Linked DNA regions of Homo sapiens. The protein of the gene in region 1 binds, or shares a complex with, the protein of each later gene. Links are inferred from orthologs where the notes say so. Each region holds a gene or a part of one and is shown in the gene's direction. Other genes may lie near its edges. The genes, in order: RELA, NFKBIB, NFKBIA and SETD6.

Region 1 (8,451 bases):
CCTAGGAGTTCGAGCCTGCAATGGGCTATGATCACACCACCACTGCAATCCAGCCTGGATGACAGAGCAAGACTCCCATTTTTTAAAAAATTACTGGCTGGGCATGGTGGCTCACGCCTGTAATTCCAACACTTTGGGAGGCCGAGGCGGGCAGGTCACTTGAGGTCAGGAGTTGGAGACCAGCCTGACCAACATGGAGAAACCCTGTCTTTACTAACAATACAAAATTAGCCGGGCGTGGTAGCGCATGCCTGTAATCCCAGCAACTCGGGAGGCTGAGGCAGGAGAATCACTTGAACCCGGGAGGCGGAGGTTGCAGTGAGCCAAGATCATGCCATTGCACTCCAGCCTGGGCAACAAGAGTGAAACTCTGTCTCAAAAAAAAAAAAAAAAAAAAAAAGTACTAACTATTCACCGAAAACATCTACAATGACTGACTCAGTAGCAATAAGTATCCGAAGTACTCAAGCTGTAGTCTTTAAATATCATTTCCTACTAAGAGAAATCAGGACTCCTTGGAAAGCTGTCTGATTCCAGATCTGGGGCAGAAAATTTACTAGATGAGTCTAGAAATATCTTTTCAGGCCAGGCGCTGTGGCTCATGCCTGTAATCCCAGCACTGTGGGAGGCCAAGGCAGGTGGATCACCTGAGGTCAGGAGTTCGAGACCAACCTGACCAATATGGAAACCCCATCTCTACTAAAAATACAAAAATTAGCTGGGCGTGGTGGCACACTCCCATAATCCCAGCTACTTGGGAGGCTGAGGCAGGAGAATTGCTTGCACCCGGGAGGCAGAGGTTGCAGTGAGCCGAGATTGCACCATTGCACTCCAGCCTGGGCAGTAAGAGCGAAACTCCATCTCAAAAAAAAAAAAGGAAAAAGAAAAGAAATATCTTTTCATACCAAACAGCAAAGAAGCTATCACAGGCTACTGTAATTGCTTTTTTAAAATTATTTTTTTAATAGACATAGGGATCTTGCCATGTTGACCAGGCTGGTCTTAAACTCCTGGCCTCAATCAGTCTTCCCCATTCAGCCTTCCAAAGTGCTGGGATTACAGGTATGAGCCACCAAGACTCATATATTGGAATTGTGTCAAAAGGACTGAAGAACAACCAACTTGAAGAAGTTCTCCCTAACCAAAGACGAATAATTTGAATTTCAATAACTATACTTGATTAAAACACAGCTAATATATTTAAATCCATGCATTCATTAAGATTTTAAAAAACTCAGCCGGGTTTGGTAGTTCATGCCTGTAATCCTAACACTTTGGGAGGCTGAGACAGAAGGATCGCCTGAGCTCAGAGGTTCGAGACCAGCCTTGGCAACATAGCAAGATCTTGTGTCTACTAAAAATTAAAAAAAAGAAATTAGCTGAGTGTGGTGGTGCACGCTGTTAGTCCTAGCTACTTGGGAGGCTAAGGTGGGAGGATTGCTTGAGCCCAGGAGTTTGAGGCTGCAGTGAGCAACGAGTCATGCCACAGCATTCCAGCATGGCGACAGAGTGAGACCCTGCCTCAAAAAATTGTTTTCTTTTTAATTAGCTGTGTGTGGTGGTGAGTGCTTATAGTCCCAGCTACCTGGGAGGCCGAGGTAAGAGGATCCCAACTGATAGGGGCGTTGGTGGGAGAAAAAGTAGGTTTACTGATTTATTCTGAAAGCCAGCAAGACTGAGAGGACGGTGTACTAGCGTTCTAAAGTACCATTTTAAGTCAGTACAATCTTAGGCTCTTTCTATGTTAAGGGCAGGGAAGAGAAGGAGGGTGTGGTCAAGAAGTACCCCATGGCAGACATCTGGGCAGCAGCGAGGGTCTGAGGAGGTTGGGAACTTCTTTGTCCTTGGTCCAGTCACAATGCTCCTATAAATCTTTAAGAAAACATAGTTGTTTACATACTTCTTTAACCCCAGACTAAGTTTTAAAAACTACATGATTGCTGTTTTTATATATTACTCAGTGCTCTAAAGCTTATGGCAGCAAAAAATTAGAAGTCCAAATGCCCATGGCTGGGCACGGTAGCTCACGCCTGTAATAGCACTTTAGGAGGCCGAGACGGGCAGATCACCTGAGGTCAGGAGTTAGAGACCACCCTGGCCAACATGGTGAAACCCTGTCTCTACTAAAAGTACAAAATTAGTCAGATGCAGTGGTTCATGCCTGTAATCCCAACATTTTCAGAGGCTGAGGCAGGTGGATCACCTAAGGTCAGGAGTTTGAGACCAGCCTGGCCAACATGGTGAAACCCCGTCTCTACTAAAAATACAAAAAGTTAGCCAGGCATGGTGGCAGGCACCTGTAATCCCAGCTACTCAGGTGGCTGAGGCAGGAGAATCACTTGAACCTGGGAGGCAGAGGTTGCTGTGAGCCGAGATTGTGCCATTGCACACAACAAGAGCGAAACTCTGTCTCAAAAGAAAAAAAAAATACAAAATTAGCCGGGCATGGTGATGCATACCTGTAATCCTAGCTACTCAGGAGGCTAAGGCAGGAGAATCACTTGAACCTGGGAGGCAGAGGTTGCAGTGAGCCGAGATGGTGCTATTGCACTCCAGCCTGGGCCACAAGAGAGGAACTCCATCTCAAAAAAATAAAAATAAAAATGCCTATCTTCAGGATGAATAAACAAACTGTGGTATATTTACACAACAAAATAGTATACAGCAGTGAAAAAGTGAATTAACTGTGAAACATGAATCATAGTAACAGGTTGAGTGAAAAAAGCAAGTAACAAAGGACAACAAATCATATGATGCCCTCTTCATAAAAGTTCAAAACTGGCTGGGTGCGGTGGCTCACACCTGTAATCTCAGCACTTTGGGAGGCAGAGGCTGGCGAATCACCTGAGGTCAGGAGTTCGAGACCAGCCTGGCCAACATGGTGAAACCCCGTCTCTACTAAAAAAATACAAAAATTAGCTGGGCGTGGTGGTTGGCCCCTTTAATCCCAGCTACTCAGGAGGCTGAGGCAGGAGAATCGCTTGAACCTAGGAGGCAGAGGTTGCAGTAAGCAGAATGCCACTGCATTCCAGCCTGCGCGACAGAGTGAGACTTTGTCTCAAAAAAAAAAAAAAAAAAGTTCAAAACTAAGGAAAACCAAAAGATATATTGTGTAGGCATGCAGATATAACTTTTTTTTTCTTTAAAATACAGAATTCTGGGCCAGGTGTGGTGGCTCATGCCTGTAATCCCACTTTGGGAGGCTGAGGTGGGAGGATCGCTTGAGCCCAGGAGTTTGAGACCAGCCTGGGCAACACAGTGAGACCCATCTCTATTTACAATAAATTAATTAATTAATTAATTTAAAAAATACAGAATTCTGGCCCAGCGTGGTGGCTCACGCCTGTAATCCCAGCACTTTGTGAGGCCAAGCGGGGAGGAAAGTTGAGCTCAGGAGTTCAAGACTAGCCTGGACAACAAGGTTAAACCACTTCTTTACAAAAAATACAAAAACTTAGCCGGGCATGGTGGTGTGCTCCCGTAGTCCCAGCTATGCAAGAGGCTGAAGTGGGAGGATTGCTTGAGCCCAGGAGGTAGAGGCTGCAGTGAGCAGAGATTGTGCCACTGCACTCCAGCCTGGGCGACAGAGACAGACCGTGTCTCAAAAAATAAATAAATAAATAAATACAATACAATACAATACAATACAATACAATACAATACAATACAATACAGAATTCTGGATGGTGGTGGCCCCTTGAGTTTTGCAATGGGTACATGGGTGTTTATCGTATTAATTTAAAAGTTATAAATATACATGAATTTTAAGAAGAGGATCCATGCAAGGTTCAATGATAATTGTATATCATTAACCAAAGATTTTAATTAATCCATTCTGTCACCTGAAGTCGGCCTCCCCCGCCCCCTGCCAAAAGTAAACACTTTTCTAATCAGGGCCAGCCACTGGAGAAACTGAAATGAGTGGGCGGGGTGCTAACTCTATTTTCACTTTTCTCTTCCTGTTTCTTCAGAGCCTGGGAAACAAGTCAGAATTTCCAATCTTTTCCAATTCCCACATGATTTCCTAATTTAAGACGAATTCAGAGAAAATAAAAAAGTCTTTCTCCATCTGGAGAAGACTCCGCCCCCTGCAGTGGAGCATCCTCCTTTGGGGATGAGGCCTGGGGTGGGGGTGCGTCAGCCCCAGCCTCCACACGGACGCGCCTTGGGCTTGGTCTTGGGGGAGCTACCTGCACTGTGGGGTCACATGACAGAATTAGTGGTCAGCCCTAGCTGGAGGTCCAGGGCAAACACAGGCGGGGGCAGGGGGGTGGGGGGTCGTGAGCCTGCTGATTCAAGTGTCCCTGTGGGTCCCGCACCTTCTGAGACACAAGCGCCAGGCTTCAGAGACGAGGCTCCGGGATTTACCCCTGGGGGCCTCCTGCTCCCACAGCCGATGAGAGCCGGCAGTTTGGCTGTATCGTAAGCTGGCGCTTTAGCTGGAGAGGGACGAGCCCTCGGCCAGCTCGCCAGCGGGAGGGCCTCAGTCGTCCCATCCGGGCTGTAGGCTCCGCAAAGCTCTTGATGCACTGTCAGGCTGGGAGGTCCGGCCGCTCCCATTCCCCCACAGCCGCATCTAGATTGGGGTGGGTAGGACATTTTAACGTGCTTCTGAGACAGCCACCACCGAAAGGCACCTTTAGCGGTTAGGAAACCCGCGCGGAGTTCAACCACCCGGCCTCTGCGGAGCAGAAGGCCCGGTCGGGCTTTTCCCTGCGCGGGGCGGGCGGCCGCAGCCCAGTAGCCCTGGCTTTGCTCCAGACCCGGCCCAGAGTGACATCACCAAACTCCGCCGATCGGCGGGAGGGGGCCCTGAAATCCCCTAAAAACAAAGTGAGTAATCGGCGGACCCACCCTCCAGGCGGGGCCGGGACCCGGGAGCTAGCCGAGCCACCGGGCACGCCAGCCTCTTCGTCCTCGGCGAGGCGCGCACTTGGCCCCGACCCCCGGCAGCGGCTGTGCGTGCAGCCTCTTCGTCCTCCGCGCGGCGTGCACTTGCTCCCGGCCCCTGCGCCGGGCGGCGGCGGGGCAGCGCGCAGGCGCGGCCGGATTCCGGGCAGTGACGCGACGGCGGGCCGCGCGGCGCATTTCCGCCTCTGGCGAATGGCTCGTCTGTAGTGCACGCCGCGGGCCCAGCTGCGACCCCGGCCCCGCCCCCGGGACCCCGGCCATGGACGGTGAGGTCGCCCTCTGACCCCGCGGGGTGGCATCGCCGGGGCCGCCGCGGCTGTGGCGGGAGCCCCCGCGCCGCTTTCCGCCCCTTCCTGCGCCGACGGGCGCTGCGCAGGGAGCGGTCGGCCTGCCGGATGGTGGCGCGGGGCGGGGCAGGCGGGGAGGGGTCTGACTCAGTTTCCCCTCTGGGTGGAGGGGGTGGCCCTTGACTCAGCATCCTCCCTGGGTGGGGGAGCAGAGGGAACCTTGACTCAGTTTCCCTCCACACCGTCCATGGGGGCAGCTCTGGCTTCGTTTCCCTATTAGGGGAGAACGCATCTGATTCAGTTTCCTCTCTGGAGGGAGGTGGGGCGTGCCCTCCCTCAATTTTCCTTAAGAAAGTACAACAGGCCCTGATTCAGCTTCCCTCTGGAGAAGAAGGATTCCTTACCCCGTTTTCCCTCAAGAAGCAGGTGTTTCTGGTTCCTTTCCTCCACCCCTTAGTTTCACCGCAGGTTCTAGGGAGCAGGTCCTGACTCAGTTCCCCTGGGAGGGAGCCTGGCTTCTCCTCTCCGTGGAGAGCAGATTCCTCCTTGTGAGAATGGGCATTGGGTGTGTGCTGACCCTGATCTCCCTCCCCTTTCAGAACTGTTCCCCCTCATCTTCCCGGCAGGTAAGTGGCCCCCGCGGCGGTCGGGGAGGTGCTCCCTGGGGTAGGGCAGTGGGGGCAGCCGCCTAATGGGGCTGCGGTGTCCCCTGGCAGAGCCAGCCCAGGCCTCTGGCCCCTATGTGGAGATCATTGAGCAGCCCAAGCAGCGGGGCATGCGCTTCCGCTACAAGTGCGAGGGGCGCTCCGCGGGCAGCATCCCAGGCGAGAGGAGCACAGATACCACCAAGACCCACCCCACCATCAAGGTCAGCACTGCGCCAGGGTGTGCGGGGAAGGGACTGTGGAACCCCAGCCCTCTGTGTTTGGGAGTCAGGTTTGGATGTCTGGGCCTCTGTACTTTGGACAGATCAATGGCTACACAGGACCAGGGACAGTGCGCATCTCCCTGGTCACCAAGGACCCTCCTCACCGGCCTCACCCCCACGAGCTTGTAGGAAAGGACTGCCGGGATGGCTTCTATGAGGCTGAGCTCTGCCCGGACCGCTGCATCCACAGGTGAGGTCCCTGCAGGCTAGGAGGCCCAGCATGAGGGGACAGGAGGCGGGCTATGAAGTAGCCGCTACAGTGTTACTCCTTTCTGGACCCAGGGCAGAATTCCTCACTCCTTGCCCTGACTCAGCTCTGCAAGTAAACTGCCTTTGTCTTGAAATTATCTATTTGTACGTTTACTCTAGCAGATGAGTTCCAGGGGATACGGATGGGTCCCTAATCACTTCTGAATTCCTGACCCCTGTAGCTGGAAGGACAAGTCCCTCAGAGTCACGTCTCTTGTTTGAGGAAGAAAACCATTGAACCAGCACTCTCCCCTGGAGTTGACATTGCAGTTGACAGAGACAGGCTGTAAAAAAATATACAGGCCGGGCATAGTGGCTCATGCTTATAATCCTAGCACTTCGGGAGGCCAAGGCAGGAAGATCTCTTGAGCCTAGGAATTCAAGACTAGCCAAGGCAACATAGTGAGACCCCATGTCTACAAAAAATAAGAAATTAGCTGGGTATGGTGGCATGCGCCTATAGTCCCAGGGAGGCTGAGGTGGGAGGATCGCCTGAGCCCAGGAGGTCACTGCTGCGGCAAGCTATGATTGCACCACTGCACTTGGGTGGCAGGGCGATACCTTGTCTTTTTTTTTTTTTTTTTTTTTTTAAGAAAGAGTCTTGCTCTGTCCCCAGACTGGAGTGCAGTGGCGCGATCTCAGCTCACTGCAACCTCCACCTTCCGGGTTCATGCCATTCTCCTGCCTCAGCTTCCCGAATAGCTGGGACTACAGGTGCCTGCCACCACGCCTGGCTAATTTTTTGTATTTTTTAGTAGAGACAGGGTTTCACCGTGTTAGCCAGGATGGTCTCAATCTCCTGACCTTGTGATCTGCCTGTCTTGGCCTCCCAAAGTGCTGGGATTACAGGCTTGAGCCACCGCACCCGGCCCGACACTGTGTCTCTTAAAAATAAATAAATACACAGATAAATAAACAAGGTGCTGTCAGAGTAACAGTTTCAGTCCTGAAAATAAAACGAGGTCATAGGATAGAAGGATAACCTGGGGTGGGGGAGTTAGGGGAGCTGGTGTGTGATGACTTTAGATTGGGAGGTCAGGGAAGGCCTCCCTCAGCTAAGACTTGAATGGTGAGAAGGAGGAGAGAAGTAGGAAAAGAACATTCCAAGCCGACCAAACAAGTGCAAAGGCCTTGAGGTGGGAATGAGTGTCCTGTGTTTAGAGAGTGGAAAAGGAGCCCCGGTGGCTGTAAGCAGGGAGCCCACAGGGAGGCTGGCAGGGGCAGGGGCACGGAGGTGCTTGTCAGCTGAGTGAAGGGACAGGGTTCGTTGCAGCACAGTAGGAAGCCACTGGAGAGGGTTAGGCATGGAGCGATGATCTAGGGGTGGGCAGAGTAGGAAGGAGCAGGCTGGGCAAGGCAGGAAGGTCTGGGCTCTGTGAGAGACAGTGGGACAGACGACTGGGGGCGCTCAGTTTCCAGAACCTGGGAATCCAGTGTGTGAAGAAGCGGGACCTGGAGCAGGCTATCAGTCAGCGCATCCAGACCAACAACAACCCCTTCCAAGGTGAGGGCAAACCTGCCTGCCACACCCGCACCCTCTGTCACCCTCCCCAGCCCGCCTTTCCTGCATCTCCCTCACTGGCCAAGACACAGTAAAGCTGGAATCTTGGTGCCCATTCAGTACTCTCCCACTTTACCACTGGGAAACTGAGTCCCAGGAGGGGACATGACATTCAGGCCACAGTGGAGTCAGTGCTGGGTTCTGCCTCCTCTAGGACTTGTGTTTCACACACGCACCAGCGGCCCTCCCAGCGCAGAGCTCCCTGCCCCCACTGATAGCACCTATATCCCCACTTCCCCTGCTCTCCTGATCGCCTGTTTTCTTGGCAGTTCCTATAGAAGAGCAGCGTGGGGACTACGACCTGAATGCTGTGCGGCTCTGCTTCCAGGTGACAGTGCGGGACCCATCAGGCAGGCCCCTCCGCCTGCCGCCTGTCCTTTCTCATCCCATCTTTGACAATCGTGAGTAGCGAGGGAGACGCAGGAAGGGGAGAGGGTGGGCCTGAATAGGAGGAAGGGGGTTGGGGTGAGTGTGGCCTGCAAGAGGCGCTCTGGCTTCATTCAATCATCTTGCGT
Region 2 (7,076 bases), on another chromosome or scaffold:
AGTGGCTGCTTTTGCACTGACACAGCAGAGTCGAGTAGTCAAAAGAAACTGTATGGCTGCTGGGCTCAGTGGCTCATGCCTGTAATCCCAGCACTTTGGGAGCCAAGGCGGACAGATCACAAGGTCAGGAGATCGAGACCATCCTGGCTAACATGGTGAAACCTTGTCTCTACTAAAAATACAAAAAGTTAGCTGGCAGTGGTGGCGAGCGCCTGTAATCCCAGCTACTTGAGAGGCAGGAGAATCGCTTGAACCCGGGAGGCGGAGGTTGCAGTGAGCTGAGATCACGCCACTGCACTCCAGCCTGGGCAGCAGAACGAGACTCCATCTCAAAAAAACAAAACAAACAAACAAAAAAAGAAAAAGAAAAACAAAACCAAAAAGAGAAACCATATGACCTACAAAGACTAAAATAGTTATCTGGCTCCTTACAGAAAAAGTTTGCTGACTCCTGCTGTAGGGTTGATAGTTTACAACTTTAGGTTATCATGGGCTACCTTAAAGTGATATTATGCCATTTCACATAGAGTAAAAGAAATTTATTTTATTTTATTATTATTATTTGAGACGGAGTCTCACTCTGTTGCCCAGGCTGGAGTGCAGTGGCACGATCTCAGCTCACTGCAACCTCCATTTCTCAGGTTCAAATGATTGTCCTGCCTCAGCCTCCTGTGTAGGTGGGATTACAGGCGCATGCCACCATGCCTGGCTAAATTTTTTTTGTATTTTTTGTAGAGACAGGGTCTCATCGTGTTGGCCAGGTTGGTCTCAAACTCCTGACCTCAAGTGATCTGCCCGCCTTGGCCTCCCAAAGTGCCAGGATTACAGGTGTGGGCCACCGTGCCCAGCATAATGAACTGTTTTAATATTCTTGTTTGCAAATTCTAACATCTCTGTCATTTCTGGGTCAGTTTCAATTCACTGATGGTTCCTATTATGGATCATGTTTTCCTGCTTCTTTACATGCCTGATAATCTTTGGTTAGGTGCCAGACATTGTGAATTTTGCCTTGTTAGTCTGGAGAATTCTGTATTCCTATAAATATTCTTGAGGCCGGGCGCCGTGGCTCACACCTGTAATCCCAGCACTTTGGGAGGCCAAGGCGGGTGGATCACGAGGTCAGGAGTTCAAGATCAGCCTGGCCAACATGGTGAAACCCTGTCTGTACTAAAAACTGCAAAAATTAGCCAGGTGTGGTGGCACGCACCTGTGGTTCCGGCTACTCGGGAGGCTGAGGCAGAAGAATCGCTTGAACCCAGGAGGTGGAGGTTGCAGTGAGCCACGATCGTGTCACTGCGCTCCAGCCTGGGCGACAGGGCAAGACTCTCTCTCAAAAAATAAAAATTAAAATAAATAAATAAATAAATAAATAAATAAATATTCTTGAATATTATTCTGGGATGGAGTTAAATTACTCGGAAGTAGTTTGAGTCTTTCCAGTTTTGCTTTTATGATTTGTTAGGTGGGTGTTGAGCAGTGCCCCATCTACAGTTAATTATTCCCCACTATTGAGGCAAGACCTTCCTGAGTATCCCACCCGATAGCCTGTGATGATGTTTTTCCAGCCTGGCTGGTGGGAACACTCACTATTCCTGGCCCTGTGTGAGTAACGAGCACTTTTCTGAAATCCTTTTGGATGGTTTTCCCATCCCCACAGACTCACAGGCATGGCTGATCCGTATTCTCCGGAATACACAAGAGAACCTCCTGCAGTTCCCCAGCAATCTCTCCTTTGGCAACTCTGTTTTGTACTCTGTCCTGTGACTCTAGCCACGCTGGCCTCCACAGACTCTTCCTCCATATCCATCTCCTGACCTCAGACAACCTGATGCGCTCTGCTTGGATTCCCCTCTCTGCACCGTGGCTTTGAAACTCTCTCAAGACAATAAGCTGTGGCAGTCAAGTGTGGGGCCCACCTCGTGTTTCCTGTCTTTCAGGGGTCACTGTGATTCATTGCACGATGTCCAGTGTCTTCAACACTGTTGCTTCATATACCGTATTTCGTCTGACTCTTGTTTGTTTGTTTGTTTGTTTCACGTGGGAGTGAATTCTGGTCCATGTTACTTCATTTTGGGCAGAAGTGGAAATCCCACTGAATAAACATTGATTCCACGAATTTGCTGATGAAACTCTGACCTCTGACCTCCCAGATAGCTGACAGGGGGTTCCAGAACTGTGGTCACAAGGCCTAGCATACAGTAGGCGCCCCATGTTTGTTCAATGAAGGAATGCAAGAGGACTTGAACTTTGCCCTCTCACCCCGGTCTTTGTCCCCAGGGCACTGCACTTGGCTGTGATTCATCAGCATGAACCCTTCCTGGATTTTCTTCTAGGCTTCTCGGCCGGCACTGAGTACATGGACCTGCAGAATGACCTAGGCCAGGTGAGCCACGAGGGATGGTGTAGGGCTTGGGGTCCAGGGTTCCCAGTGTGACTCCCTACCGCCTGTCCTCTGCTTCTGCAGACAGCCCTGCACCTGGCAGCCATCCTGGGGGAGACATCCACGGTGGAGAAGCTGTACGCAGCAGGCGCCGGGCTGTGTGTGGCGGAGCGTAGGGGCCACACGGCGCTGCACCTGGCCTGCCGTGTGGGGGCACACGCCTGTGCCCGTGCCCTGCTTCAGCCCCGCCCCCGGCGCCCCAGGGAAGCCCCCGACACCTACCTCGCTCAGGGCCCTGACCGTACTCCCGACACCAACCATACCCCTGTCGCCTTGTACCCCGATTCCGACTTGGAGAAGGAAGAAGAGGAGAGTGAGGAGGACTGGAAGCTGCAGCTGGAGGCTGAAAACTACGAGGGTGAGGGTCGTCACCAGGGAAGGACTCAGCTCCTGGGCTAGGCGAGAGCACCTGGCCCTGGGCTCAGCTTCCCTGATTTGAGACTGAGCTCCTTGGGAAATCATGCCTAGGCTTCAGGAGCCCACACATCGGGACCAGGGACCTCCACTCAGGGCCCAGATGATTGAGAATTGGATATGTAGGACCCAGGACCCCCACCTGGAGGCCCCAGGTCACTTGGGATGCAGACCTGTCACCCACAGACCCAGAGCTGCCAGGATCCAGTTGTCGGGCCCCCGGGCTCCCCACCTGCAGAGTGTATTGCAGACCCCTACCCTACCCAGGACCGGGGAATGCAGAGCTCAGGCCCTCTGTGAAACTCTGGCACCCCAGGCTCCCAGCAATGGGCAGCAGGGTTCAGAGACAGCCCTCCTCAGCCTCATGGGAAGAAGGGCTCATCTGCCCACAGCCCTGACATCCAAGTTTCTGCTCCCCTGCCTATAAGCCCAGCCACCTGAGACCAGACCCCTCCTCAGATGGACTGACGTCATTCAGGACCCAGTGTTCAGGGCCTGCCTCTCGCCCCCAGGTCACAGGCTTTTCAGCTACTTGGTACCTTTTTTTTTTTTTTTTTTTTTTTTGAGACAGTCTCACTCTGTTGCCAGGTTGGAGTTCAGTGGCGTGATCTTGGCTCACTGCAACCTCCACCTCCCAGGTTCAGGTGATTCTCCTGCCTCAGCCTCCCGAGTAGCTGGGATTACAGGGATTACAGGCACATGCTACCATGCCCAGCTTATTTTTGTATTTTTAGTAGAGACGGGGTTTTACCATGTTGACCAGGCTGGTCTTGAACTCCTGGCCTGGCCTTAGGTGATCTGCCCGCCATGGCCTCCCAAAGTGCTGGGATTACAGGTGTGAGCCACCGTGCCTGGGCAGGAACCTTAATTTAAGGTTTTTTTTTTTTTTTTTTTTTGACATGGAGTCTCACTCTGTTGCCCAGGCTGGAGTGCAGTGGCGCCATCTCAGCTCACTGCAAGCTCCGCCTCCTGGGTTCACACCATTCTCCTGCCTCAGCCTCCCGAGTAGCTGGGACTACAGGCGCCCGCCACCATGCCCAGCTAATTTTTTGTATTTTTAGTAGAGATGGGGTTTCACCATGTTAGCCAGGATGGTCTCGATCTCCTGACCTCGTGATCCACCCGCCTCAGCCTCCCAAAGTGCTGGGATTACAGGCGTGAGCCACTGTGCCTGGCCTTTATTTTTTATTTTTAGTAGAGACGTCTTGCCATGTTGCCCAGGCAGCTTCTTGAACTCCTGAGCTCAAGTGATCCTCTTGCTTTGGCCTCCCAAAGTGCTGGGATTACAGGTGTGAAATAGCGTGCCAGCTCAGGTCCTTTGAGTGATAAGAGCAGAGACTTGGGTCTCCTCCTGGCCCCAAAATCCAGGCTCCCTGTCCACAGACCCCAGGCTGTTTACCCGCGGGCCCCAGGCTTCAAACAACTCAGGCACTAGCACTTGCCAGCAAGCTCAGGCCATCTGAGATAGGCATTTGGTACCCAGGTACCTCTTTGCCATACCCAAGAATTCAGGAACCAGCCCCCAAACCTAATCACCCTCACGCCACATGACCCTCCCCCAGGATCAAAGCACGGTGGGGTGGGGGGGGCCCTCACCTCATCATCTGACGCCAATCACTCTGTCCCCAGGCCACACCCCACTCCACGTGGCCGTTATCCACAAAGATGTGGAGATGGTCCGGCTGCTCCGAGATGCTGGAGCTGACCTTGACAAACCGGTGAGCCCCAACCTCGGGGAAGATGCCGTCGGCGGGAGGGGGCTTGTCCCCTCTTCGGGCCCTCTGACCTTTCTGTTGCACCCCCACAGGAGCCCACGTGCGGCCGGAGCCCCCTTCATTTGGCAGTGGAGGCCCAGGCAGCCGATGTGCTGGAGCTTCTCCTGAGGGCAGGCGCGAACCCTGCTGCCCGCATGTACGGTGGCCGCACCCCACTCGGCAGTGCCATGCTCCGGCCCAACCCCATCCTCGCCCGCCTCCTCCGTGCACACGGAGCCCCTGAGCCCGAGGGCGAGGACGAGAAATCCGGCCCCTGCAGCAGCAGTAGCGACAGCGACAGCGGAGACGAGGGCGTGAGTCAGGAGGAGAGACAGGGCAGCCCAGCTGGGGGGTCAGGATAGACCGGCAGGCAAGAAGCCCAAGAAGATAATTAGGCACCGACCTTGGGCTGCTGTTAGAGAACTCAGGCAGCAGCGCCAGTGACACGGGGCACTAGTCAGGAGAGACCTGGACAGGGGTGGTGGGAAGAGCTTGGGCAGAAGTGGCTGAAAAACTAAGGCAGTGGCAAAGGTAGAACTCAGGCAGGGGTGGAGAAAAGGCGTTGGTCGCAGTGATTGGTGAACACAGCGGGGGTGGGTGGTAGCGCTGGGGGTGATTTTAGGCAGCAAGAATTGGAGAACTCACACTGCGAAAAGAAAACCTTGGGTGGCAGTGATTTGAACACCGGCAGTGCTGGGGCAGGACCCGAGCCAGCGGTGGGGAGAGATATAGTCAGAGAACCCAGCAATACAGATCCGTCCTTGGGCAAGGCGCGGTGCTGGATGATGGGTGCGGAGGAATTTGGGTAAAGGCAGAGGGAAGGGGTGGAGGAGGGCCAGCTCAGTTGCCGAAACTCTGGAGTGGCGGCTGGCTAGAAATTGGTCTGTAGAAATGACCTTGAAAATGGAGTTCTGGCCAGGTGCGGTGGCTCACGCCTGTAATCCCAGCACTTTGGGAGGCCGAGGCAGGCAGATCACGAGGTCAGGAGTTCGAGACCAGCCTGGCCAACATGGCAAGACCCTGTCTCTACTAAAAATACAAAAATTAGCTGGGCGTGGTGGCGCATGCCTATAATCCCAGCTACTTGGGAGGCTGAGGTAGGAGAATTGCTTGAACCTGGGAGGTGGAGGTTGCAGTGAACCTAGATCACGCCACTGCATTCCAGCCTGGGCAACAGAGCGAGACTCCATCTTAAAAAAAAAAAAAAAAAAAAGAAAGAAAAGAAAATGGAGTTCTGAGAGCTAGGAAACTGGGAGGTTGAGCCAGGAGCAGGGGAACTTGGGCTTTGAGGCGAGACCTAATTCTTAGGGTGCTCTATGAGGACATGGGTGGTGGGCAAAGTGACAGCCGCCTGAGCCCCTCTGCCTGGTCCCCTTTGCCCCCAGGATGAATACGACGACATTGTGGTTCACAGCAGCCGCAGCCAAACCCGGCTGCCTCCCACCCCAGCCTCAAAACCTCTTCCTGACGACCCCCGCCCCGTGTGATTTGTTTCATTGTTAATATAATTTCCAGTTTAATAAACAAAACCCTAGTTCTGACAACCAGAGACCAGACTGATCTTGTCTTCCCAGTCCTCCGGGTCCTTCTGGGGCCCATCCCTGTCACATCAAGTGCTGCTCACGGAGGCAGGGTGCGTTTCTTTGTGCTTTATTCACTCAGAAGGGTTGGAGTGGGAGTGCATAGGTGTGGGGGTGCTTCCTGTGTCAGGGCTGAGCCCAGCCCCCGGCCCAGCTCAGACTCACCTCCTTGGGTGTGGTTCCAAGGCACGTCCGCCTCCTCCCCTGTTTGGGTAGGGGTGGCGTGGGGTGCTAGGTGAGGTGGAGGCTTCGGGGTCAACAGTCCTAAGCCACAGGGTGTGTCAGGAGGAAGGAGGGACTGAGGTAGGGGTCAGCCCTCCCTCCTGAGCTGCTCCCCCAGCGTCTCTGTCACCTTCTTCAGTTCGTCTCTCAAGTGCTCCAGCTGCTCCACCTCCTTTTCCTGGTGGGGTCAGAAACGGGGTAGTCAGCACCCACCTTCAAAGGCAGGCCACCTCGGTCACTGTGATTGTGGGCCATGTCGGTTCTCATAGTGGCATCCAGCAGCGGTCGTTCTGATCGTCGTGGACCGCGATGGTGACCATGCTGATTGCCATAACCCCGGAAGAGTGGTGCTGGCTAACGCGACCACAGCCAACAGCAGTAGCTTGGCACTGGCAAAGGTGCCTGGGATGAGCACCTCGTGATGGCGCTTTATTTTTATTTTTAAGATGGAGTCTCGCTCTGTCACCCAGGCTGGGGTACAGTGGCACGATCTCGGCTCACTGTAACCTCCACCTCCCGAGTTCAAGTGATTCTCCTGCTTCAGCCTCCCGAGTAGCTGGGATTACAGGCATGCAACACCATGCCTGGCTGATTTTTTGTATTTTTAGTAGAGACAGGGTTTCACCATGTTGGCCAGGCTGGTCTCGAACTCCTGACCTCAGGTAA
Region 3 (8,046 bases), on another chromosome or scaffold:
GGTGCTACATGCCAAAAGTTGTCTGAGCTAAGTATGAGGGAAGTACACACCCTGACCTAAGCTGTTGGAGATCCCACTCCTTTCAGACTCAAATGGTCTGTTTCACTCATCTGTGAAATCTGCCTGCTCCCTATGCGTAAGTATTTTGAGTTTGAGATCCTTTAAAGCTTTGATCTCCATTAAATTGCAGAATTTGTAGCAAAGGAAACACATTAAGGATTTGACGGTCTTATTTTCACTTCACTACAAATGAAGGTTCTGACAGCTGTTTTTCCTTTTTTTTTTTTTTAATTGAGACAGAGTCTCTCTCTGCTGCCCAGGCAGGAGTGCAATGGCACGATCTCAGCTCACTGCAACCTTCACCTCCCAGGGTCAAGTGATTCTCCTGCCTCAGCCTCCCGAGTAGCTGGGATTACAGGCATGTGCCATCACGCCTGGCTAATTTTTGTATTTTGAGTAGAGATGGGGTTTCACCATGTTGGCCGGGCTGGTCTTGAACTCCTGACCTCAGGTGATCAGCTCGCCTCAGCCTCCCAAAGTGCTGGGATTATAGGTCGGAGCCACCGCCCCCAGCCTTGTTTTTCTATGGGAAAAGATCCATAGCTTGGGGGCTCCCTGTTCTGAAGAGGATGCAGACAGTTGCTACCACGATAGCAAGAAAGAAGACAACCTGAGACTGAAAGCAGAATATTTAGAATTTCACAGTGGGGCTGCCAGTTGGGAGTGCACCTGCCTTGCTCTTCAGGAACTCTGTCATGGCTCGTCTTTCTTCCAGCCTAGCTGCACTGAGCAATAGGTAGCCTGATTCCAGAGTTGAATTTGCTGTAGCCAAAACAATTTAGTTTTAATTGGCCAGGCCAGTTGACACAGGCCACCCTGCCCTGAGGATTTTGGACCACCTGGCTGAACTTGTAGACTCTCTCCATGGCACTTCAGGCAATAGGTTTTGTCCATACTGTGCTTGTTCCATGCAGGAGGAGTGCCTGAAGTGCCTGCAGCCAAACCAGGCCCTGGCGATGCTCCTTTTCCCATGGGGGTGCTCCTGGAGCATCACTGGCCGTCCTGTCATTTCCTACGGCTGCGTCCTGGGCCAAAATACAAAGCAGCTTTGAGGTGTAACTTATTATTTTGCCTTATGCATTAAAAAGGCCAAATAACATTAAAAATCAGTTATCTAAAGTATTTTGTTTTGTTTTGTTTTGTTTTTTGAGACAGAGTCTCACCCTGTTGCCCAGGCTGGCGTGCAATGGCGCGATCTCGGCTCACTGCAACCTCTGCCTCCTCGGTTCAAGTGATTCTCCTGCCTCAGCCTCCTAAGCAGCATCTGCACCACCACACCCGACTAATTTTTTGTATCTTTAGTAGAGACGGGGTTTCATCATGTTGGCCAGGCTGGTCTCGAACTCCTGACCTCATGATCCACCTGCCTCAGCCTCCCAAAGTGCTGAGATTATAGGCGTGAGCCACTGCGCACAGCCTACAGTTTTAACATTTTTTTTAACGGTTATGTTAGCTAGAATGTTTGACAATGAGGAGGAGAAAAATCTGAGTGCTGAAGGGTCCATAAAGGTCTTTCTTTTTCTTTTTTTTCTTTTTGAGACAGGGTCTCAGTCTGTTGCTCAAGCTGGAGTGCAGTTGTGCCATCATGGCTCACTACAAACTCCACCTCCCAGGCTCAAGCAATTCTCCCACTTCTGCCTCTGGAGTAGCTGGGACTACAGGCACCTGCCACCACACTCTGCTAATTATATTTTTTGTAGAGACAAGAGTTTAGCCTTGTTGCCCAGGCTGGTCTCCAACTCCTGGGTGGCAAGCAATCCTCCTGCCTCAGCAACCCAAAGTGCTGAAATTACAGCAGTGAGCCACAACTCCTGGCCCATAAAGGTCTTTCTAAATCAAAACCAGACCCTCTTGTTGTCTTCTGCCCAGTCTGCTCATGGTTCTAATTTCCAAGTGTATATTCTTTTTCACCCACGTTGTAATGTTTGTTGACTTAAACCATATAGCGCTATAGATGATGGGGAGAAAACCTGTTGGATCACATTATTCAAAACTGTTTCCCAGAGTCGCAGGAAAACAATAGGTACCTCCTTGGAAATCTCCACTGTAGGGACAAGTCATCAAGGCTCAGCACCTCCCAATTTTTGCAAAAGGCACTATGACAAATCAAGGAACGCCTGTGCCTTACTCTTACCACTAGGTGTCACACAAAACAATCAGGAATAAACACCAAGATCCTGAAGGCTACCAGAAATATAAAACCATAGAAGGTGGTGCAAAAAAACCTTATTCCTCAGATATTTTTATTTTTTATAACCATTTTTATACCTGAAGCCAAATATCTTCTTCTGATGTATCCTCTATAATTGGGACATTTAGAGTTTGATGTTTCTGTACTTGTTTAAAAGAAGTGACTATCCCCAGATGGGGGTCAGGGGACACCCACCCTTTATTTTCCCTAACAGTTGGAGTAGAAAATACTTTTGAGTACATTCCAAATTATAGTGTAGTCAGTCTGATTTTCACAGCGTGTTTTCAAAAGTGTTAATACTAAGACTGCTTTGGCCAAATGATTAATATACTGCCAAGGGGTTCCTGGGTAAATTTCTATGCATTTCAGTTTCTTTTTAGGGAAGTAGGAACAATATCTATCTTACAAGATTAGTTCTGAGAACAATGTGGTACATAAGGCGCTGGAATTCTTTCAAAAATTTATACCCTGACATTTCCAAGAGCCATGGTCACCCTTACAAAGGAGAGTTAGGCATGCATTTGTAGACAAGCAATATGACTTTTAAGCTAGAAAAGACCTTAAGTAACATTCAATCTAATCTTATTATAAAAGTTAAGTATACCACAAAAAAGTTAACTGACCTCTCCAACTAATGTGCAGTCAAGTAAAGATAGAACCTGGAATTGAGATGTCCCATTGCAGTCACTGTTTCACCTTGCCTCAATCATTGTAGATTTGCATATCATAAACCTGCAGAGACAATGGTGTCTATCCCTGGGAAGTTTTCATTGTAACATGTGATCATTATTACCCTGGAGGGTCTATCTGATTTTAATTTTTTTCCCTTCATACTTGGTCTCTCTCTATCGAGTCAGATTTCTTTCATTCTAATATTAGGGGAGGGGTGGAGATACGAAGAGAGGGGAAGGATTGGTTAGTACAAGGCCAGTCAAGGTAAAGATGATTGCAATAATCACCAGAAATCTCTGCAGAACTACAGAGGCCTCCTGGGACTAATTCTGAAGAGCTCTGACCGAAGTTTGCTTTATTTTGCCTGTACCAATTCTACCAAGTAGATGAATTCAGTCCATGGCTTGCAGGCTTGGAGGTGGAGGTGGAGTGGAGAGCATAAATTATATTTCTGCAGGTGAAACCAGAGCATAGTGAGCCGAAACCCCTTTCTACCCAGGTGGCGTGAATGGGTCCAACTGCTACTGTCCCCCAGGACAAGAGAGCAAGGAGGGGCGGGCAGGATGGGACTACCTTGAGCCTCCCGCAGGATGCCTGGCAACTACTTTCTTAGTGGTCCTTAAGGTCCAATCGCGGTTAAGGCACTAACTAAACTCATTCTTCAGCCTCCTTCTCTAAGTTCTCCTCGAATTTGGGTGCCCAGAAGTAGGCTCACGATCCTTTTTCTGCGGGAGCACAATGTAGGTCAGATAGCATAAACGAATAGCTACTTATGAACACAATAGCTACTCTGCTATTGCAAGGTATCCACAACCACCACTACAAACATTAACACCTTGCTTTACTTGGGAAACAAAAAAAATCATGGTCCTATTCAGCAGTTTCCCCATACAGGGAGCGTTTGCCCCTCCCCCAGTCAACAGGGCTGTTCATCCCTAGGAAGTGATTTGAGAGTTCTCCAAGGATTTAGGCTTTTCACTCCTCCAAAGCTTTCACAACTTCTACCTGGCGGGGGTGCGTGGGGGGGTGGGGGCGAAGCTAAAAGTTCCTTTGCTGCAAAGAGCCTGGTATAGGCAGAAACACCGGCGCGGCCTGCAGCCCCCTAACCACAGTGCGTCCTTCCCCTTAGAAGTCTGGGGAAAGCAAATCCCTACGCCCAGCCATCATTTCCACTCTTGCGTTTTCAAAAGATCAAAAAACGGAAAGGACCGGCAGGTTGGCAAACCCCAAAGAGGGACCGCCCATCAGGTCGGCGTCCTTGGGATCTCAGCAGCCGACGACCCCAATTCAAATCGATCGTGGGAAACCCCAGGGAAAGAAGGCTCACTTGCAGAGGGACAGGATTACAGGGTGCAGGCTGCAGGGAAGTACCGGGGGGAGGGGGCCTGGTCGGAAGGACTTTCCAGCCACTCGGCGCTCATCAAAAAGTTCCCTGTCCGTGACCCTAGTGGCTCATCGCAGGGAGTTTCTCCGATGAACCCCAGCTCAGGGTTTAGGCTTCTTTTTCCCCCTAGCAGAGGACGAAGCCAGTTCTCTTTTTCTGGTCTGACTGGCTTGGAAATTCCCCGAGCCTGACCCCGCCCCAGAGAAATCCCCAGCCAGCGTTTATAGGGCGCCGCGGCGGCGCTGCAGAGCCCACAGCAGTCCGTGCCGCCGTCCCGCCCGCCAGCGCCCCAGCGAGGAAGCAGCGCGCAGCCCGCGGCCCAGCGCACCCGCAGCAGCGCCCGCAGCTCGTCCGCGCCATGTTCCAGGCGGCCGAGCGCCCCCAGGAGTGGGCCATGGAGGGCCCCCGCGACGGGCTGAAGAAGGAGCGGCTACTGGACGACCGCCACGACAGCGGCCTGGACTCCATGAAAGACGAGGAGTACGAGCAGATGGTCAAGGAGCTGCAGGAGATCCGCCTCGAGCCGCAGGAGGTGCCGCGCGGCTCGGAGCCCTGGAAGCAGCAGCTCACCGAGGACGGGGACTCGTAAGTGGCGGAGGCCCGGGGCTGGGGGTCGTCGGGAGGGCGGGACGCGCGCGGCCTGGGGGTGGGAGGCGCCGGGCCTGGAGCCCGAGCCGGGGGACCAGCGATGCAGCCGGGCGGGCGCCGCGGCACCCCGGGGCTCCTGCACCGCCCCGAACGCTGCAGGGCTGCAGGGCCGCGCGGGGCACCGGCCCAACTCGGAGGGGCGGCGGCTGGGCCCTGGTGGATGGCAGCGTCGCCACACGCCCCCTCCCCCCAGACCCGTCCTCTAGGCCGGGGGCGGGGCGGCAGCGGGGACGCGAAGTCCCCGGTTGCATAAGGCGGGGCGGGAGTTTCTGGCCGCTGGCGGGCGCCGAGCAGCCGGGAGGGGAAGTACAGGGCGTTCCGAGCTGGCGGGAGGGCGGGGCGGTCTGGCCGGCGCCCGCCGGGGCCGCGGGGGGAGGGGGGCGGAAAGTCCCTGGGCGCCTGCCAGGAACACTCAGCTCATAATAACCTCGCGGAAAACACCGCGGCCTCGGCCTCCAGAAACCCCGGCCTTGCGCAATCCCCCGCAGCCCGCGCCTCCCTGGGCCCCACGCGGTGCACTCACCACCCCTGGGGTTTTTCCCTCTCTTCCCCACAGGTTCCTGCACTTGGCCATCATCCATGAAGAAAAGGCACTGACCATGGAAGTGATCCGCCAGGTGAAGGGAGACCTGGCCTTCCTCAACTTCCAGAACAACCTGCAGCAGGTGCGCCGCTTGCCTGGCCCGGGTTCTCTCTGACCCTGGGACGTAGCTGATGTAGCAGAGTCACCCCAGATCCTTTCTGAATTCAGGGCCACTGAGCACTATTTACCCTCACCTTTTACTTCACATCAGCCCACATCCTAGAGAGTGAAGGAAATTCCACTGATTTGGTGAGGTCTTTATGACCCACCTGGAGCCTCTGCTATTTGCCAGCCCTCCCCACCCCCCTGTCTAGGAGGAGCAGCACCCAACCAGGAGACACGGGTTGAGGGGAACTCGGGGTGTGGGTTTGGTCCATGGCTTACTTTCTCTGGTCTCTCTTGCATTCGTAGACTCCACTCCACTTGGCTGTGATCACCAACCAGCCAGAAATTGCTGAGGCACTTCTGGGAGCTGGCTGTGATCCTGAGCTCCGAGACTTTCGAGGAAATACCCCCCTACACCTTGCCTGTGAGCAGGGCTGCCTGGCCAGCGTGGGAGTCCTGACTCAGTCCTGCACCACCCCGCACCTCCACTCCATCCTGAAGGCTACCAACTACAATGGTATGTCTGCCTCCCTGCCCTGCCCCACCCCCTCGGAGGGCAGGTGACGTGGAGAAGGGGCAGGTGGGCCAACTTAAGGAGTCCAGGCAAGAGCTTAAACTCCTAACATTTGGAAGGTTGAGAAAATATGTGTGCAAAGTGCCTATTGGATGCCTTTATAAAGTTCTTTCAGAACCCAGACTGTGGGTTCTTAAAATTCAGAAGATAAGACTACTTGTTCCATAAAAGAATAGGTGAAAGGAGTGAGGGTTGAAACAGGTGGTTATACTTTTTTCCTTTTGTTCTTCCAGGCCACACGTGTCTACACTTAGCCTCTATCCATGGCTACCTGGGCATCGTGGAGCTTTTGGTGTCCTTGGGTGCTGATGTCAATGCTCAGGTTGGTGCTTCCTGCCCCCGACGCACTGAGTCAGGCTCCTCGTGCTTATGTTGTGAGCAGAAATTCCAAATGCAGCCATAAGCATCTCAAATTCCTTTTGGTTTCAGGAGCCCTGTAATGGCCGGACTGCCCTTCACCTCGCAGTGGACCTGCAAAATCCTGACCTGGTGTCACTCCTGTTGAAGTGTGGGGCTGATGTCAACAGAGTTACCTACCAGGGCTATTCTCCCTACCAGCTCACCTGGGGCCGCCCAAGCACCCGGATACAGCAGCAGCTGGGCCAGCTGACACTAGAAAACCTTCAGATGCTGCCAGAGAGTGAGGATGAGGAGAGCTATGACACAGAGTCAGAGTTCACGGAGTTCACAGAGGACGAGGTGAGTCTGTGAACTCCTTCGGCGCTCTAACTAATGAGGTGCCATTCCCTTCACCCTCCCAGGCCCCTAGAGCTGCTCCTTATCAGAGGGGTATCTACATAATGAGTCTCTCAAATTTCTGTGCATAACCAGTATCCCAAGAATGTACCTGCCCCCCCTCTTTTTTTAAAGAGAAGCATTAAAGGCAAACTCTCTCAGCCTGTAAAGTTCATTATATTTGGGCTATGGAGAATGGAGTCCAAGAGTTATTTCCAGTAGTGGCCTCCCCATCCCGGTAGCTTGGCAGAGCTCCGCTCCGGAAGCTTAACGTGTCTTTTTTCCCCTTGTTTTCAGCTGCCCTATGATGACTGTGTGTTTGGAGGCCAGCGTCTGACGTTATGAGCGCAAAGGGGCTGAAAGAACATGGACTTGTATATTTGTACAAAAAAAAAGTTTTATTTTTCTAAAAAAAGAAAAAAGAAGAAAAAATTTAAAGGGTGTACTTATATCCACACTGCACACTGCCTGGCCCAAAACGTCTTATTGTGGTAGGATCAGCCCTCATTTTGTTGCTTTTGTGAACTTTTTGTAGGGGACGAGAAAGATCATTGAAATTCTGAGAAAACTTCTTTTAAACCTCACCTTTGTGGGGTTTTTGGAGAAGGTTATCAAAAATTTCATGGAAGGACCACATTTTATATTTATTGTGCTTCGAGTGACTGACCCCAGTGGTATCCTGTGACATGTAACAGCCAGGAGTGTTAAGCGTTCAGTGATGTGGGGTGAAAAGTTACTACCTGTCAAGGTTTGTGTTACCCTCCTGTAAATGGTGTACATAATGTATTGTTGGTAATTATTTTGGTACTTTTATGATGTATATTTATTAAACAGATTTTTACAAATGAGTTATCCTGATCATTTTCTTCAGGCTGCCGTGGGCCTCCGGTTCTGAAGTTCCATCCTCCGGCAGAGGTGGAGGTGGAGCAGTGTGAGGGAGGAGGTAACTCCCAGCAGCTTCTCACACCTGACACCCAGCCTCCAGCAAAGCTTTGCAGGCACCCTGGGCCCAGTGTGTGGGAGGGAGGCTGTTGCAAGGTTATAGGAAATTACCAATCTCAGGCTTGGGGTGGAAGCATGCTGTTTGGCCTGTG
Region 4 (6,481 bases), on another chromosome or scaffold:
TAGCCACTCAGCCCATTCCTAAAGGCCATGAGATTTTCAACACTTATGGGCAAATGGCTAACTGGCAACTGATTCATATGTACGGTTTTGTTGAACCATATCCTGACAACACAGATGACACAGCTGACATTCAGATGGTGACAGTTCGTGAGGCAGCATTACAGGGTGAGTGTATCATTAACTCAATATTTGACACTGATGGTGTGTCTATACCCATGCCTCAGGTTAAATAGCTTTGCTAAATAGCAGTTGACTTTGTAGACTGGGTGGCAGACTAAAGAAGAAATGAACCCTTGGGTGTACTGAGACTTTCACATTGCTGTTTCATCTACAGGAACAAAAACTGAAGCTGAAAGGCACCTAGTGTACGAGCGCTGGGATTTCCTATGCAAACTGGAGATGGTAGGGGAAGAGGGAGCCTTTGTGATAGGGAGGGAGGAGGTGCTGACTGAAGAGGAGCTGACCACCACACTAAAGGTAAACGGCTGAAAATGGCCATTTAATGCTGATAATCTAAGTATTTAAAGCAAAATAGCTAGAAGATGAGAGAGGAAATGTGGGATTTTTAATAAATGCTAAGATGAGTTTAGTCTCCTGAGTCATTTCAGAAGTACAAAAGCAGTACATCTAATTAAAGAGCTCTGTGGTTGCTTCTAGGTACTGTGCATGCCTGCTGAGGAGTTCAGAGAGCTTAAAGACCAGGATGGAGGGGGAGATGATAAAAGGGAAGAGGGCAGCCTGACGATCACAAATATTCCCAAGCTCAAAGCATCGTGGAGACAGCTGCTTCAAAACAGTGTTCTACTGACTTTGCAGACCTATGCCACAGACTTAAAAACTGACCAAGGTTTACTCAGTAATAAGGAAGTCTATGCGAAACTCAGCTGGAGGGAACAGCAAGCCTTACAGGTTCGCTATGGTCAGAAGATGATCTTACATCAGTTGTTGGAGCTGACAAGTTAGCAGTTTCCCTGTTCCCTGAAGGAACAGCAATAAGAACTTTATTCTAAGCTAATACTCATTGATGTTTGAAAAAGAGGAAAATTTGGATCTTTCTTTTGCTTACTAAACACCAAGAGGAAAAGTAGCAAAGTTGGTGTGCTAGGATTAACTCAGGTAAGGGTGATGTGTTTTAGGATTGAGAACAGCAGACTTGGGAATCACTGCTAATTGTTACTTAAAGCATGTTACAGATGTTTTGTTCTCAGTTTTAACCAAAGCCAGTGGACATACGGTAGTAATAAGTAAGTCTTGTTGTGTTTCAGCATTTAATAATAGACTTTGGAGGTAGACCCCTGGTTTAAATCTAAGTCTAGTTTGAGGAAGTCACTTAACCTTTATTGAAAAGACTCTGGATTTAATAAGCTGTGTAACTGGTACTCGATAGTTACCCAAAGTTCAGTCTAGATGGCACAAACCACCTCTCAGGGAATAAACCCTAAGACATCACTCAAGGAGGACTTCAATTATTTAATTTTGAACTGTTTTGTCCTCTCTGGCCATAAAACTTGACAGTCATGAAAGGTAAGGCAAATTTTAAGTGGGTTAAGTTTTTAAATACGTATCTACTCATTTTCTTTAAAAAAAAAAAAAAAATACCTGGGGGAAAAGGATATTAAAACTGGGTATTTTAAACTCAGCTTAACCAGATAAACCTGCTCCAGCATTTGTCCAGTGTTGAAATAAATAGGAAGAAAAATACAATTTCCTTAAACATGCCAGCTTAGTAGTAGGAATGACCTATCAATCAATCAATCAATCATTCAGCAAGAAGTTAGTTGGTGGTTCCCCATGGCCCCAAGGTCTGCAGGGCTGGATTGTCCACTTTTCCTCCTCACCACCAGCACTGGCTGCTGCTACTGAGAAAGGCACAGTGGACTCATGTGTGTGTCATGACTTTAATGGTTAGCTACAGTATGCATACACATACAAGAAGTAGGGGAGCTGAAGCCCAGGAAAAGGCTACAAAATACAACACAGGGACCAATACATTTGCAAAACATTCAAAATCCTTATAAAAGGGGCTGTATTGGTCCTTTCAACTTTGTCATTATTCAGCTTAGCCTGTATGGCCATTCATTCAGTGGGGTAATGGGGGAGAACAATTAATTAATGAGATTTGGTTCCCTTTCCTATATTCCCACTGTTTTTAAGTTTCAGGAGAGGATTGGGGGGGTGAGGGTAGGGGTGGGCTTTAGGCCTGGTCTGGTTTCCCTTTATATAAAGAGCTGACCCCCATCTCAGGCGGCTGAGGTGTATAATCCCCAAAAGAAATAAGATGGTACAAATGCAGTCAGCTTTGGAATACGTTTGGGTAGAGACAAAATGGAAACTCATGGGATTCCAATAGTGAGCCCTTCCCATGTTCCTGGACATATCCAATTCTAGCACATCCACATTTTTAATAACTTAGTGATTTTCAAGGTCCCCTGTCCACATTAAAAAAATAAGTTACATAATATTCAAACTGGCTTTTTGCTATTCTTTGGGACACCAGGAATGTCAGAAGACATGGAGCTATGCCCTCAGACAAGTGCATGGCATCAGCTGCCTCTTCATTACAAGGTACCAGTTTATGTACTTGCCTTGGACACAGCTTGCACAAAGCCAAGAAGTTCCAGACAAAGGTTTTCTCTTTCATGTATTTACACAAGTTCAAAATGATATTCACAGCATCTTCTAAATTTTGGCCAAGAGTCAAAAAAATGCATTTAAACTTTGGAACGTGCCCACATAAGACAGGAGGCTGATCCCAACAGTAGTTGGGGCAGATACCCACAAACCAAAGGGCTGGGAAAGTCAGGAAGAGCTGAAAGGATTCTTCAGTCAGTTTATGAACTCGGTGCAGTGAGACCTCTAGACTGACACGTACAACAGAGATGCAGTTTCGTCTAACTGGCACCTGTCCCTTCCATTACTTGCTGGGCCTGCTTCTGTCCCATGCAGCACTGTGCGACCGACTGGAATAACCTGAAGGATGAAGACAGTTACAAATCTCTGATTAAAGAGTAGGCCTAACAATACCTTGCATCTCATTCAGCTGACCCAACCTAGAGACAGATGGTTTTCAGTCTCCAGTCTCATTCCTAGACAATTAAAAATTACTTTGAACTCACTTTTCGATTTCTGGGGCACAGTGTACAAATTCATGGTTCCAGAACTTAAACGCTGGGTTTTTAATCAGCTCAATGAAGGTAATAAGAAGACCCCAAGGATGTGGCCTATTTACAATCAACCGTTCCAAGAGAACTCTGGAAAAAGGGAGAAAGAGCTAGTTAATGTATAGAAGCATACAAATTCATGATTATTCTTCCATTACTTTTTTTCTAACTTCTCCCTGACTATTGAACCACATGCAAAAGTTTTCACCTTTAGTAAAGACAGGTGGATTAATATACTCCAAATAGCACAGGTTGGAATACCTGGGTTTGAACCCTGCTCTTAGCCGTAGAAGACTAAGTATTTATATAAAGTGCAGATAATGGTATCTACCTCACAGCTGTTCAGAATAAGGGGTGATGGGGGAGAGGAAGCCACATAAAGCCCAGAGTACATGGCACACAAAGTTAGTACAAAAAGTAGTAATTTCCAGAATGAGCTCCCAGGCCGGGCACAGTGGCTCATGCCTGTAATCCAGCACTTTGGGAGGCCGAGGCAGGTGGATCACCTGAGGTCAGGAGTTCGAGACCAGCCTGGCCAACATGGTGAAACCCCATCTCTGCTACAAATATAAAAATTAGTCAGACATGGTGGCCACATGCCTGTAATCCCAGCAGTCGGACGCTGAGGCAGGAGAATCGCTTGAACCCAGTAGGTGGAGGTTGTGGTGAGCCGAGATGGTGCCACTGCACTCCAGCCTGGGAGACAGAGTGAGACCCTGTCTCAAATAAACAGATAAATTAAATAAATAAATAAGCTCACTCTCAATAAAAAGGAAACAGAAAATAAGAATTAAGTATTCTAACACTGCAGGCTGGGCACAGTGACTCACGCCTGTAATCCCAGCACTCTGGGAGGCCAAGACGGGTGGATCACGAGGTCGGGAGTTCAAGACCAGCCTGGCCAAGATGGTGAAACCCCGTCTCTACTAAAAATACAAAAAATTAGCCGGACGTGGTGGCAGGTGCCTGTAATCCCAGCTACTCAGGAGGCGACAAAGCGAGACTGTCTCAAAAAAAAAAAAAAAAAAAAAAAAAAAAAAGCTAACATTGCTAGTTCACATGTAAATTGGTAAAATTTTTCCGAATGCCAGTAAGCATTGGCTTAACTTTATATCCTTTCACGTACCAACTGTACATGAAGCATAACAAAGATTACAAGTCCAAGGAGACTTACTGCAGCTTTATATAAACAAAATGGATCATCATCATCTAAGCATCCAATAAGATATTAAATTTTAGTACACAAATCAAAGGAATACCATATTTAGCACCATAGGTGACTAATTAGGCAAATGAGCAAGTTTTAAGAGTCTGGCCCAATTTTTAAAGTGTGTGTGTGTGTGTATCACAATCTCTCTAATGCTATATGTAGTCTAGGCAATCTGGCAACAGATTCCTAACTATTGTTAGGAAAATGCAAGTATGATCCTGTTATTGCTACTGCTTTCAACCCAGAGGTAATGAGGAAAAGTCCAAGTTCCTTAACATAGACTTCATAGGCCTGCATGATTTAGGACTGGTTATCACCACCACCTCAGAGAAACTCCTGACCTTTAATCAAAATGTGCCTTGTGGTAAACTACTTTTCATTTAAGCCATGATTGCGATTTATAATTCCCTATCTTGTGATAAATGTCCATCAGAATGAGTATTAAGAGGGCAGGAACCATCCATTTTGCTCACAATTGTATCCCACATTTAACACATTATTGGACATGTAAAAGATTTTCACTGAAGGCCGGGTGCAGTGGCTCACGCCTGTAATCCCAGCACTTTGGGAGGCTGAGGCGGGTGGATCACTTGAGGTCAGGAGTTCAAGATCAGCCTGGCCAACATGGTGAAACCCCGTCTCTACTAAAATACAAAAATTAGCTGGGCGTGGTGGCAGGCGCCTGTAATCCCAGCTACTTGAGAGGCTAAGGCACGAGAATCGCTTGAACCTGGGAGGCGGAGGTTGCAGTGAGCCAAGATGGCGCCACTGTACTGCAGACTGAGTGACAGAGCAACACTCCGTCTCAAAAAAACAAAAAAAAAACCAACCAAACGGATTTTCACTGAACACTGAAAGCATAAAGAGGAAAAAAAAAAGATGAAAGGGAGGAGATCCTTTTGAAGCATTTAAAAAATAAGCTGCTCGCTTACCTTGTGATCTGTTCTTGGATGGCTTCCGTATTGGCCTCTGCAAAAAGGTACAGCATGGTGCAACTGAAGTAGTGAGTGTGGCTATTTGGGTACCGGAGCTGATTTGCAATTGCATTCAAAAAGAGATAGCGACCTAGAAATTAAGAAACCTTGACTTAGGACTTAGTCTGAAAGGCCAACATGGGAAGACAGTTCTAACTGGCTAGGGTTTGGGTTTCTGACAGAGGCTTTCAAATTAATCTTTGGTTTAAAGCAGTGGTTCTTGGGACCCCAAAGAGTTCTCATTTCTGTGCGTTTTATTTCAGAATTTTCCACATTAGAAATTAGATTTTAAAAATATTCATTTTTAAAAACAGACCCACTATGTGCTAATGTAAGAAACATGAACTATTTTCTGGTGACACTCATCACTAAGTCTTTCTACATTTTGCAGATCTCTAAGTCTTGCTTAATAAAAGACAGCTGGATTCTCATTTCTGCTTCTGTGTTCAACTTGTTACAGTATATTTCATGTAACCTCTGAGAAATTCAACTGTACACTCATGACAGAATAGACCCAAAAATGTAAATGTTGTTTTATGATGAAAACAGTTTTGGGCCGGGCACGGTGGCTCACGCCTGTAATCCCAGCACTTTGGGAGGCTGAGGCAAGTGGATCACTTGAGGTCAGGGGTTCAAGACCAGCGTGGCCAACATGGTGAAACCCCATCTCTACTAAAAATACATAAAAATTAGCTGGGCATGGTGGCGTGTGCCTGTAATCCCAGCTCCTCGGGAGGCTGAGGCAGGAGAATCGCTTGAACCCCTGAGGCGGAAGTTATGGTGAGCCGATATTGCGCCACTGCCTTCTAGCCTGGGTGTGAGAGCAAGACTCTATCGCAAAAAAAAAAAAAAAAAAAAGTTTTGACCTCACAGCCCTCCTAAAAAGGTCTTGACACCCTAAGGGTACCCAGCCCACATTTTGATTAGTCTAAACTACACTGGAATAAGTATTATCTTAATTGGGTTTGGTTGTTTGCCTCTGCTTGACATTATTCGTGTTTGTGAGTCTGTCACAGTGACACGTTTCTCTAAAGGCTGCCGTCCTTTTATTGCCGAGCTCTTGGACGTGATGGTATTCAATTTTGTTATATCTTGAATTTAAGCTGTCTTAAATCCATCCCACATATAGGCATGCA

What was found.
Region 2: the proteins of RELA (region 1) and NFKBIB are in contact, whole or in part, in a crystal structure (PDB 1K3Z), measured with the Mus musculus proteins. The link is inferred for Homo sapiens from one-to-one orthologs. Residues at the interface, in NP_033071.1 of Mus musculus: Lys218, Lys221, Ser240, Gln241, Ala242, Asp243, Val244, Arg246, Gln247, Asp294, Arg295, Arg297, Ile298, Lys301, Arg302, Arg304, Thr305, Tyr306, Thr308, Phe309, Ile312, Met313, Ser316, Pro317, Phe318, Gly320; in NP_001293151.1 of Mus musculus: Tyr53, Thr55, Glu56, Asp57, Asp59, Ala61, Leu64, Ala65, Ile67, His68, Gln69, His70, Pro72, Phe73, Phe76, Asn91, Leu93, Gln95, Leu100, Ile103, Leu104, Gly105, Arg125, Val137, Arg275, Leu283, Arg284, Asp306, Lys307, Leu308.
Region 3: the proteins of RELA (region 1) and NFKBIA are in contact, whole or in part, in a crystal structure (PDB 1NFI), measured with the Homo sapiens proteins. Residues at the interface, in NP_068810.3 of Homo sapiens: Arg50 (codon at 6,028), His181, Lys221, Ser238, Phe239, Ser240, Gln241, Ala242, Asp243, Arg246, Arg253, Asp294, Arg295, Ile298, Lys301, Arg302, Arg304, Thr305, Tyr306, Thr308, Phe309, Ile312; in NP_065390.1 of Homo sapiens: Thr71 (codon at 4,876), Glu72 (codon at 4,879), Asp73 (codon at 4,882), Asp75 (codon at 4,888), Phe77 (codon at 5,513), Leu80 (codon at 5,522), Ala81 (codon at 5,525), Ile83 (codon at 5,531), His84 (codon at 5,534), Glu85 (codon at 5,537), Glu86 (codon at 5,540), Leu89 (codon at 5,549), Leu110 (codon at 5,612), Gln112 (codon at 5,618), Leu117 (codon at 5,962), Ile120 (codon at 5,971), Thr121 (codon at 5,974), Asn122 (codon at 5,977), Phe142 (codon at 6,037), Arg143 (codon at 6,040), Leu150 (codon at 6,061), Gln154 (codon at 6,073), Arg218 (codon at 6,662), Asp226 (codon at 6,686), Leu227 (codon at 6,689), Gln249 (codon at 6,755), Tyr251 (codon at 6,761), Gln255 (codon at 6,773), Leu256 (codon at 6,776), Trp258 (codon at 6,782).
Region 4: the proteins of RELA (region 1) and SETD6 are in contact, whole or in part, in a crystal structure (PDB 3RC0), measured with the Homo sapiens proteins. Residues at the interface, in NP_068810.3 of Homo sapiens: Glu307, Thr308, Phe309, Lys310, Ser311, Ile312; in NP_001153777.1 of Homo sapiens: Ser120, Trp122, Val220, Met221, Ala222, Tyr223, Ser224, Phe225, Gln226, Glu227, Pro228, Pro238, Asn239, Ser240, Pro241, Asn259, Leu260, Tyr262, Asn283, Thr284, Tyr285, Met288, Met296, Tyr297.

What each region holds. Positions count from the first base shown.
Region 1 is NC_000011.10:65,659,552-65,668,002, reverse strand, and holds the start of RELA (transcription factor p65), read left to right. Parts: upstream 1-5,086; 5' UTR 5,087-5,170; coding exon 5,171-5,177; intron 5,178-5,425; exon of another isoform or gene 5,426-5,624; intron 5,625-5,655; exon of another isoform or gene 5,656-5,797; coding exon 5,798-5,824; intron 5,825-5,914; coding exon 5,915-6,066; intron 6,067-6,134; coding exon of another isoform or gene 6,135-6,167; coding exon 6,168-6,316; intron 6,317-7,787; coding exon 7,788-7,879; intron 7,880-8,205; coding exon 8,206-8,337; intron 8,338-8,451. UniProt on the Homo sapiens protein: NF-kappa-B is a pleiotropic transcription factor present in almost all cell types and is the endpoint of a series of signal transduction events that are initiated by a vast array of stimuli related to many biological processes such as inflammation, immunity, differentiation, cell growth, tumorigenesis and apoptosis.
Region 2 is NC_000019.10:38,902,738-38,909,813, forward strand, and holds the end of NFKBIB (NF-kappa-B inhibitor beta), read left to right. Parts: intron 1-2,277; coding exon 2,278-2,383; intron 2,384-2,464; coding exon 2,465-2,798; intron 2,799-4,483; coding exon 4,484-4,572; intron 4,573-4,661; coding exon 4,662-4,922; coding exon of another isoform or gene 4,923-4,970; exon of another isoform or gene 4,971-5,993; coding exon 5,994-6,095; 3' UTR 6,096-6,152; downstream 6,153-7,076. UniProt on the Homo sapiens protein: Inhibits NF-kappa-B by complexing with and trapping it in the cytoplasm.
Region 3 is NC_000014.9:35,401,264-35,409,309, reverse strand, and holds NFKBIA (NF-kappa-B inhibitor alpha), read left to right. Parts: upstream 1-4,560; 5' UTR 4,561-4,665; coding exon 4,666-4,892; intron 4,893-5,511; coding exon 5,512-5,620; intron 5,621-5,949; coding exon 5,950-6,160; intron 6,161-6,450; coding exon 6,451-6,539; intron 6,540-6,646; coding exon 6,647-6,916; intron 6,917-7,249; coding exon 7,250-7,297; 3' UTR 7,298-7,797; downstream 7,798-8,046. UniProt on the Homo sapiens protein: Inhibits the activity of dimeric NF-kappa-B/REL complexes by trapping REL (RELA/p65 and NFKB1/p50) dimers in the cytoplasm by masking their nuclear localization signals.
Region 4 is NC_000016.10:58,518,067-58,524,547, forward strand, and holds the end of SETD6 (N-lysine methyltransferase SETD6), read left to right. Parts: coding exon 1-165; exon of another isoform or gene 166-166; intron 167-334; coding exon 335-477; intron 478-657; coding exon 658-963; 3' UTR 964-2,891; coding exon of another isoform or gene 2,892-2,970; 3' UTR 2,971-3,116; coding exon of another isoform or gene 3,117-3,251; 3' UTR 3,252-5,303; coding exon of another isoform or gene 5,304-5,436; 3' UTR 5,437-5,776; downstream 5,777-6,481. Other genes in the region: CNOT1 (CCR4-NOT transcription complex subunit 1), read right to left, coding at 2,892-2,970, 3,117-3,251, 5,304-5,436. UniProt on the Homo sapiens protein: Protein-lysine N-methyltransferase. Monomethylates 'Lys-310' of the RELA subunit of NF-kappa-B complex, leading to down-regulation of NF-kappa-B transcription factor activity. Monomethylates 'Lys-8' of H2AZ (H2AZK8me1).